3 separate regions of the Homo sapiens genome follow, and all the other regions are reported to be linked to region 1. Evidence: microRNA targets listed by miRTarBase, many of them from high-throughput screens and not tested one by one. Region 1 holds a microRNA gene; each other region holds the end of a gene's coding sequence.
Evidence for each region. The annotated mature microRNA hsa-miR-6748-5p reads UGUGGGUGGGAAGGACUGGAUU and lies in region 1 at 1,635-1,656, shown strand. An mRNA with a match to its seed (bases 2 to 7 or 8) in the 3' UTR can be bound and repressed. Matches are read on the target gene's strand: a 7mer-m8 pairs with bases 2 to 8, a 7mer-A1 pairs with bases 2 to 7 and ends in A, and an 8mer does both.

Region 2: miRTarBase lists DNLZ as a target of hsa-miR-6748-5p. Seed matches in the 3' UTR shown: 7mer-m8 at 863-869.
Region 3: miRTarBase lists TNFAIP8L3 as a target of hsa-miR-6748-5p. The part of its 3' UTR that is shown has no 7-base or 8-base seed match.

Annotation. Positions count from the first base shown.
Region 1 is chr11:62,788,186-62,791,433 of GRCh38, forward strand. It overlaps MIR6748 (microRNA 6748), which reads left to right and starts at 1,630; the gene lies at 1,630-1,700. TMEM179B (transmembrane protein 179B) reads left to right here. Exons shown (of 5, transcript NM_199337.3): 2 at 838-1,025; 3 at 1,107-1,241; 4 at 1,416-1,494; 5 at 1,701-2,215. The coding sequence ends at 1,862. It overlaps TMEM223 (transmembrane protein 223), which reads right to left. Exons shown (of 2, transcript NM_001080501.3): 2 at 1,786-2,730. The coding sequence ends at 2,438. RefSeq lists an enhancer at 3,221-3,248.
Region 2 is chr9:136,359,208-136,362,455 of GRCh38, forward strand. DNLZ (DNL-type zinc finger) reads right to left here. Exons shown (of 3, transcript NM_001080849.3): 3 at 276-2,973. The coding sequence ends at 2,805. It overlaps GPSM1 (G protein signaling modulator 1), which reads left to right. Exons shown (of 14, transcript NM_001145638.3): 14 at 1-394. Among named protein-coding and RNA genes, the nearest start is that of DNLZ, 2.9 kb to the right of the region's middle.
Region 3 is chr15:51,055,076-51,058,323 of GRCh38, reverse strand. It overlaps TNFAIP8L3 (TNF alpha induced protein 8 like 3), which reads left to right. Exons shown (of 2, transcript NM_001311175.2): 2 at 1-1,723. The coding sequence ends at 443. The region is part of intron 1 of MIR4713HG (MIR4713 host gene); the gene reads right to left. Among named protein-coding and RNA genes, the nearest start is that of MIR4713HG, 19 kb to the right of the region's middle.

The sequences.
Region 1 (3,248 bases):
TGAGGTCAGGAGTTCGAGACCAGCCTGGCCAACATGGCAAAACTCTGTCTCTACTAAAAATACAAAAATTAGCCGGGTGTGGTGGCTCATGCCTGTAATCCCAGCTACTTCGGAGGCTGAGGCAGGAGAATCGCTTGAACCTGGGAGGCGGAGGTTGCAGTGAGTCGAGATCGTGCCATTGCACTCCAGCCTGGGTGACGAGCGAATCTCCATCGCAAAAACAAAAACAAAAACACTGGCCGGGCCTGGTGGCTCACGCCTGTAATCCCAGCACTTTGGGAGGCCGTGGCAGGCGGATCACGAGGTCAGGAGATCAAGACCATCCTGGCCAACACGGTGAAACCCTGTCTCTACTAAAAATACAAACAATTAGCCAGGCATGGTGGCGGGTGCCTGTAGTCCCAGCTACTCAGGAGGCTGAGGCAGGAGAATGGCATGAACCCAGAAGGCAGAGCGTGCAGTGAGCCGAGATGGCGCCACTGCACTCCAGCAAAAAAAAAAAAAAAAAGCACCTCACAGATAGTTATTTGTTGAAGGATATACAAGGCCTGGGTTTACTCTAAGGTTTCTGCACAGAGACCATAACTTGTGAGGCTTCTCTGAAGCTCATTGCATTCTATATTCATTGCCTATTTTCTGATCCTTCTGGCCACTGCCGGTGTGATTCCCCAGCAGGCCCTCTCCATCAATATCCCTGTCCCAGAAATAGGAATTGACGGTGCACAAATAACTTCCTGGAATGCAGGACCATTCCTAAGTTATCACTAACACCCTACCAAGAGACTGTATCTAGAGACATTAACCTGAAATCTAGGACTCAGCAGCTTCTCTCCACAGGGCTCCTTCAGTGGTAGATGTCCCCTGTATGGTGTGGCCACCCTGAATGGCTCCTCCCTGGCCTTATCCCGTCCCTCAGCACCATCCCTGTGCTACTTTGTAGCTGGGGCCTCTGGCCTCTTGGCCCTCTACTGCCTCCTGCTTTTGCTCTTCTGGATCTACAGCAGCTGCATCGAGGACTCCCACAGGTGACTGCCTAACCCTGAGGGCCAGGGGCTGAGGTAGGATGAGCCTCACCTCCACCACAAGGCTTGTTCTCTCCCTTTCAGAGGTGCTATAGGGCTGCGCATTGCACTGGCCATCTCAGCTATAGCCGTCTTCCTGGTCTTGGTGTCTGCCTGTATCCTTCGATTTGGCACCAGGTCTCTCTGCAACTCCATCATCTCCTTGAACACTACAATTAGGTAATGGGAGAGGGAGGGAAGCCTGGCTGGGGCTGACTACCTTCCCTCTGCAGCGGGGTCCTATAATTTCCTTTTATCCCCATCAGTTGCTCTCAACTCACAGGGCACTGGGCACAGGTGTGCCTCGGATATAAACTATCACGCTTTCTCACAACTGTCTCTTTGACCTCACAGCTGTTCTGAAGCCCAGAAAATTCCATGGACACCCCCTGGAACTGCTCTGCAGTTTTACTCCAACCTACACAATGCTGAAGTGAGACCCAAGGATAGGAGGAAAAACTGACATAAATATCTGTAGCTGTGTGGGTGCTCACCAGTGTATTGTGAGCTTGGCCTACCAGTGAGAGGAGCTGAAGGGGTTGTCAGCTTAAAATTCAGCAGTTCAGAGTGGTGTGTGGGTGGGAAGGACTGGATTTGAAATGGTCCCACTCCTGACGATCCTGTCCCTGTCTCCTACAGACCTCTTCTTGGGTGAATTTGGTATTGTGGTGTGTGGTCTTGGTGCTCCAGGTCGTGCAGTGGAAGTCTGAAGCCACCCCATACCGGCCTCTGGAGAGGGGTGACCCTGAGTGGAGCTCTGAGACAGATGCTCTCGTTGGGTCACGCCTTTCCCATTCCTGAAGAATAAGCGGAGTGCTTCCTGCAGCCGAAGACTCCATGCCCAAGTGCCTGTAATCCCCCCCCTCAAGGCCCTGTTTATGTTGGGAGTCTTAGTTTTCCTTTCGTTGGGGGGTGGGGGGGAAACATAATGACAGGCCCCCCTCCACCTCTTCCTGCAGCTGTTTTTGTACCAAAATATTATATTACTGTCTTCATCTTAGTAGTGAGTTTTTGATGTTAAAGTACAACTAGATAGGAGGAAGGAGTGAAGGCTAAGCAGACATGGACTGAAACTTAGAGGTACTGTTAGGCAGCTGCCCTAGGGATGACTGCTCCTTTATTTGTTGTTAATGAATCTTGACCTCCTTGTGTGACCCTGGTTGTTACTCCATTCTAAGATTGGCGTTTTTTTTTGTTTTTTTTTTTGTAAATAGAGACAAGGTCTCGCTATGTTGCCCAGCCTGGGCTCGAGCAGTGCTCCTGCCTCACCCTCCCAAAGTGCTGGGATTACAACAGGTGTGAACCAACACACCTGGCTCCCCAAGGTTCAGTTTTTATCCTCCTCTTGGAGAGGTGAGTGACTTGAGGTCATTTCTTCACAAGCTCCGGTAGGCACCCACAGTATTGTCAAAGAGTTTTGTGTTAGGGAAGTGTCCAGTTTTGTCCAAGAGGAAATAGAAGCGTCGGCCTTTGACTTTCAGAGGTAGCATGGCAGGGACTTCACCCCGGTGGGCCATGCAAGATACCTGCTTCAAAGGAACTGTGAAATGGGCCCCCAAGCCAAAGGGGGCATGAGTGGTGAGGGTCACCTGCTGCCCTCCAGCTCGAAGCACCACTGAGCGCACAGACCGGAGAGAGAAGAGAAGACCAGCACCGAGTACGAGGGCTCCTGCAGGCAGGGCAGAGATTGGGGTGAGGGGTTTTCACTGGGCATCTAAGTACCGACCTTTCCAGTGCCCTCTGAATAAGAAATTTGTGGGATGAAAGTAGTATTTACTGAGCGCTTTTTTTTTTGAGACTGAGTCTCACTCTGCCGGCCAGGCTGGAGTGCAGTACTGAGCTCCTGTTATACCCAGTAATCTTGTTATTCCTCCCAACAACCTTAATAGATGTCCGTTTCCATTTTAATGGGAAGATGGAGAGCTTTAAGGACCTTGCTCAAGGTCGCAGAGTGAAGGGCAGCCCTCAGCCTAGGCTATGACAGGGCACGGCGCTCGGAGACATCACTGTTTCCCAATTTTTTTTTTTGAGAGGGGAGTCTCGCTCGGTCGCTTAGGCTGGAGTGCAGTGGCGTCATCTCGGCTCACTGCAACCTCCGCCTCCCAGGTTCAATTGATTCTCCTGCCTCAGCCTCCCGAGTAGCTGGGACTACAGGCGCTTGCTACCACGCCCAGCTAATTTTTTGTA
Region 2 (3,248 bases), not on the chromosome of region 1:
TGAGATGGGCCCCAGGGGCCTGAGGTTGCCTCCTCCTGTCCAGACCCAGCCTTGGCACCTCCCAAGACTGCCAAGGGCCCTACCATGGCCCCACAGCCCCCAGGGCTGGCAGTTCCATCTAGGAGGGTGCCTCTAGGCCCCACTCTCAGGCTAGGATGGAGAGGCAGATCTGGGCCTGGTGAGGTGACCTGCTTCTGGAGGGGCAGGGCCGCACCCGAGAGCAGGGACAGGTGCCCGAACACAGGGTCTCCAGGACGTAGCGCCCCCCCGCATACTTGAATGTATGTGCGTATTTATTGCTCACGTCTGTGCCATGTTGTCAATGGGTCCTTTCCAACCCAAGAGGTACATTTGTTTTTCTGTTTTTCCTGAAAAATAAAGTCGGCCAAGTGAGTGTGGTCCGTATGGGCTTAGTCCCGGGTGGGGGCCTAACCCGGTAAGAGGCTGCACTGTGCAAAGTGTCCACAGATACCCACTGTCTGGGCCCTCTGAGACCTCAGAGAGATGGAGTTCCCACTGCATTTAACCACGGGGGAGCTGGGGCACAGAGGGGTGAAGTGGCTGCCTGCTGTCACCACTGATTCCTGCACCCCTACCTCCTCACGCTCCCAGCCCCTAGGGAAACAGAGCATGCTCTGAGCTGACACTCACGTGGCCGGGACCAGCCCCCAGAAGCAGCAGCCCCCAGGTCAGCCCCACGACCCCCTGAGGACCCAGCCTGCTGCCGCCCACCCAGCACCCGGGGGAGGGAGGTCCTTTCCTGGAGTCTGATCCGGCTGGGCTCAGGGTCTGGACACTGAGCCACAGTGGAGGAGCCGACGGCAGATCTGCAGTCTTGGGGCTTGTCTGGGCGCTGCTTGTGGTGGGTGGCACCCCCACGGGGCCCCCGTCAGGGGACACACAGGTGCGCCGGGCAGTCCTGCTGCCCCTCGCCACAGCCCACCTGGCCATGTTGGCAGCCACAGCCTCTGTGCTGGTTGACTCCGTTGCCTCCTCCACCCCAGAAGGGGCCTTGGGAACCAGAATCAACGTGTACTCCAGGTCCAGGGTCCCAGCCAGCTTGCGTGTGGTGGTACACGCACACAGGGTCCAAGTAACCGTGCAGGGCCCAGGACCGCGCACAGCCAGGGAAGCGCAGCAGTGCCGCCCACGCTACTGGCTGGGACAGCCTCTGAAGGTGCGGCCGAGGAACCTGCTTGGAGAGACGCTGTGACGAGGGATGCCCAGGCCAGCAACCGTGCCCGGGAGGCAGGGATGTCCTGGGGCGGGGGGGTGTAGAGTGGCAGGAGATTAGGATGGCAAAGCCCCTTGCAGAAACCTGGCTGTGGGATTGGGGCTGCGGGGAGGGAAGGGCGGAGGGAGACAGGGTCCAGGGGGCCTCAGGCAGGAGCTGGCGGGATGCTTCTGGCACGCGGGGGGTAGCCATAGGTCTTCTCTAGGAACGTGCCAGCCTTGGGAAGGATTTCCCTCCAGGGCCAGCCTGGGCCCAGAGGTGCTGGCATCAGACAGAAAAGACATGGTAACGTCCACATCCCAACTACCAGCCGCCATCTCCCCATCCGTAAGAGGAGGGGTTGGCCCAAGCGGCTCTCCTTGCTCTAATTCTGCACTTCCAGGTCCAGACGGCTCCCTGGACCTCCCCACATGCTGGTCCAGGCCCTCTGGAGGCAGTGAGGCAGCCAAGCCAAGCCCAGCCCCACTGCACTTCCAAGCCCCCAAGAGACCCCCAGCCAGTGCCTCCATGGAGGAGCAGGCCTGGGTGCCGGTGGCTCAGCCGAGAAGAGGACAGTTTCCACAAATGGCACAGAAGGCTCTGGGTGGGAATAATAGAGGGTTGTTGGCTGAAAGAAGGACAGGGGGTAATCGAGGCAAAGCCCACGCCACAAGCACACTGGGAACGATGCCGCCGCGCCCCGGCCTCCCACGGGCCGGATGTGAGCTGGCAGTCCTGGCCGTGTCCCGCTGGGAGGGGCCGCACTGGGTCCCTGTCGTGCTCAGTCCTGCCTCCACCTCCCACCTCGCCCCATTCTCTTCCCTGCCGGAGTGTGGCGGGTGATGAATGCTGAAGGTTACGCTGCCCAGAACGCTTCTGCAAATAAACAGGCTGCTGTGTTTGCTCGCTTTCATAAACACGGGAACATCCTGCGCACAGACAAGGCTGGGAGACAAACCCCACACACCTCGGAGGGCCCTGGGGACGTCCAGAGCGCTGTCCACCGAGGGAAGGAGGCCCAGGTGGCTCCCCCGGGAGGGGTCTGGAGCTCCTAACACACGGCCACGCCATAGCTGCTCGTCCTGCCTGGGCCAGCAGGCAGCCTGGTTTGCTCACTGTTTCGCCGACGGCCGGCGGCCGAGGACCAGGGCTCAGGTCTGCACTGGCTCACGGAAGGGAGGCCGCCAGAGCTGGCCAGGGGGGCGGCAAGGGCCTTGCAGAGGAAGGCTGAGGCTCACAGGGGTGGTGACCTGCTCAAAGTCACGCAGCGACAGCCAGGAAGGGCTCTGACGCCACATCCAGCCCCCTTTCCACGCGACTGTGGCCTCTGTGGGCAAGAGCTGGGTGACTCTGTGTAGAAGGAACTGTGGTGAGGCGAGAGGTCCTGCGGCTCCTATGTCCCACCCAGCAGCACCAGGGATTCAGAGCAATCGTTCTAACTCCAGAAAAAGAAAGGCCACGAGGGCCACAGGCCCCAGCATCTGGAAGTAATGTCTGTTTATTGATAGAAAACAGGCCACGTCCAGAGAGGCCCAGGGCCAAAACCTCCTTCTGGAAGGCCGAAGTCCCACAGTGCCGGGGAGCGCAGGAGTCAGCTCGGCTCCGTCTTGCCAGGGCTGGGGGGACCCTCATCCTCACCCGCTTCCGGAGCTGCAGTGGATGTGGGGGCCCCTGCAGCCTCCAGAACCAGTTCCAGGGCCCCCTCGCCCGCCACACGGTGCACCTGCTCGCCTCTGGCCGTCAGGATCTCTTCGATATTTCTGGGGGGCAGGGAGGCAACATGGCTCTTCAGGGCCCCCCAGCCGCCCTGCACTTCAGTCCCCTCAGGGCGCCCCATGGCCAGGCCAGAGCTGCAAGCACCAGGCCCAGCACTCCTGTGGCATCAGGCCACACGGGCACTTCAGACGCTGGCCTGTGTGCCCTCACCAGCCCTGTGTCTCTGCCGGTATGCGCCGCCTCAGGAACCCAGTCTCCTGCTCCTGCCCCCTATGTGCCAGAGGGAAGAATCTGCAGCCCCGGGTCTGATGGGAGGACA
Region 3 (3,248 bases), not on the chromosome of region 1:
ATGAGCTCTACAAAGTCACCAAAGAGCACACACACAACAAGAAGGAAGCCCACAAGATCATGAAAGACTTAATCAAGGTGGCGATCAAAATCGGGATCCTCTACCGGAACAACCAGTTTAGCCAAGAGGAGCTGGTTATTGTGGAGAAGTTCCGGAAGAAGCTGAACCAGACCGCCATGACCATTGTCAGCTTCTATGAGGTGGAATACACCTTCGATAGGAACGTGCTCTCCAATCTCCTGCATGAGTGCAAGGACCTGGTGCATGAACTGGTGCAGCGGCACCTGACGCCCAGGACCCACGGGCGCATCAACCACGTCTTTAACCACTTTGCCGATGTGGAGTTCCTCTCCACCCTCTATAGTCTGGATGGAGACTGTAGGCCCAACCTCAAGAGGATTTGTGAAGGAATCAATAAGTTGCTAGATGAGAAAGTCCTTTAAATGCCTTCCCTCCTACTGGACTTTGCTGCTTTAAAGTTACAGCACTCAACCATGATCTGGGTGAGAATCAAGAACATAAGCAGAAACCCTTGTCAAAGATGTCCATGTTCTTTCCTGTTCATCCCTCTGATGCTGATTCTGATGCTGAACTGAGCTCAGGTGTGTTTTTCTTCCAAGCTTTCTAGCAAGGTTTCTACTTAAAATCACCTGTGTGCAAGCCCAAAGGACATTTCATCTATTCTAAGCAGAAAGGCTGTTTTGTTCATTACAGTGAGTGCTGTTCATCTCATGGAGTGGGAGGAGCACTAAACCAGGAGACAGAGGACATGGATTTGGTTTCCAGCTTAACCAGTTAGGACTCTGTCCTCTGCATTCTGGAACCATGATGCCTGCCTGCCTGCCTCACAGGGCTGTTGTGAGGACCAGATGAGATGATGTATGTTCATACTTTTGGAATCTCTAATTTAAAGTCTTAATATTTTGTCTTCTGAGTGTGAGGGGATAAACCTGGATGTAGACTATTAAGCAGCATAGGAGAAAAGAACAATAGAATCTAATGGACTGGGTTTGCAATCTCTCTCTAAATGCACTGCTTCAGACAAAGTGAAATCCAAAGGTGTGAAAAAGTATAGCTGCAAATTGGAAAAATGTGTTTCAAGAGTCGTCTTTTTGGCCAGGCATGGTGGCTCACACCTGTAATCCCAGCACTTTGGGAGGCCGAGGTGGGCAGATTGCCTGAGGTCCGGAGTTCAAGATCAGCCTGGCCAACATGATGAAACCCTATCTCTACTAAAATTACAAAAATTAGCCAGGCGTGGTGGTACACGCCTGTAATCCCAGCTACTCAGGAGGCTGAGGCAGGAGAATTGTTTGAACCTGGGAGATGGAGGCTGCAGTGAGCTGAGATCACGCCACTGTACTCCAGCCTGGGCAACAGAGCAAGACTCTGTCTCTAAAAAATAATAATAATAATAATAATTTTTTTAAAAAGAGGTGTTTTTGAGGTCTTAGATGTTCAGGTTGATGATCCTGCAGAGGGAAACTTTCCATGGGGGGGTGGGGAGAGAGAGTTTTCCATCCACAATATAGAAACAGAGAAGCACTGTGCTCCCTCTGCAGGACCAGCCTTCCCTTATCTAAGGGGCATGGAGCTCAGGGAGGCTTTATTCCATATGCACGGGAGAATCAGGCAGAATGAACCCCTACCCATCTTTCTTGGCTTTTCAGTCATTTTGTGCTGTTTTCTCTGGTTCATTAATAAATTGAAACTGCCCTCCAAACAAGAGATCTTAGAGTTGTGATTCAAAATAAAATTCCTTGGAGTTAAATACAGTGTTAAGAATAACAGGATTGAAAAGAAGAAGAAAATGAAGAGCAAGAGTTCTGCACTCGAACCCCAAGAGGAGGTAGATTCAGGGGAGCACAAGTGGGTGGATCTGTGAGATGGTCAGTGGGGAGCTAGTCCACAGACACAAACCACCTTCTCCAAATGTCACAGCCTTGCTTTCACAGTGCAGCTTCTGACATCTTTTCATCATAGTCTTAACCAACGTCAGCAACAATGTACTTCCTTTCAACACTGTGCCACATTAAGAGACTTGCTCCTCTTGCCTTTCCTTCCATCCTCCTCTGCTTCTCTTCTAATGATAATATAAAAATACCATACTAGCACAGCCCTATGGTTCATCCCACCCCACAGTCTATCTCCAGCAGGAGCATCAAGAGATGGTTTGTGGGGAGGTGTGAAACAATGTCCACTGAGCCTCGCTGGCCATTCAGCCTCAGCTGGCTCTCATGTCAACATCATAGCAAACCATCTAGTTACGTTCTTCAGCCACGCAGCCAGAATTAGTTCATAGGAAGGCTATTCAGTATGGAATATGGAGGAGTAAGGCCAACCCCTGTTCTCCATATTGGACAAACATGGCCTAGCCCTCTACTCAAACCCAAGGGCTGAACAATGATGCCCTGTGCACACCTGGGCTGGGGAGATGGCTGGTCATTTGGCACTGCTGGTGGGAACTACAGGCAGTTGGCTCCCCTTCCTTCCCACCTGCCTGCAAGGCACCAGTCCAGCAGTGCTGGATTTTCTCATGCTGTCTTCAAGGTTTGCCTTGATGTATTTATCTGACAAAAGACTGTTTTCTTGTTCAAAAGATGGTTCTAGAAGTAGGTTCACTGTTCATTAAGTGGACCATTACAGAGAACTCGGACCCAAGAGGAATGAGTGAACTTGTCTTCTGTCCGTGTGAGATACAGTGGGGAAGAAAGCAGGATCCTCAGCTAAAGAAGGTGTTGGGTTCTCTCCTGGCTCTGCAGGCCACAGCACAACAATGGTGTAGGAAGAAGGCTGAGTTGGGTTCTGACAGCCCACAAGTCTCTAAGGAAACTGGGTCCTTTCTGCTTTGGTCAAGGAAGGATCAGCACCTCCACCAGTGAATCTCACCAAGTGCAATGGCAGAGTGTGGACCAAAACATTTTCTGTTACCTTAGGCTCTCCGCTGAGGGAGCCAGTGGGCTGTCTACCTAAGACCCCCAGATTTAGCAGCAGCAACCAGTGGGGATCTGGGCTACCTGGGCACAAGAACTCCTCTAAAAATACAAAGCCAAAACCAATCCCATGTGCACATTTCAAACATACGATTTGCATCTAAATCAAGTGATTCTTGAATTTCATCAAGCAGCTGAAAGGCCTACAAATTTCAAATATTTTACATAACAGTCTAGTGACCAAAGCTAGCTTCTCATTATACAGTCCTATTGGTTTATCCTAAGTACTCTAACCACATCACCTGGTGGCCCTGA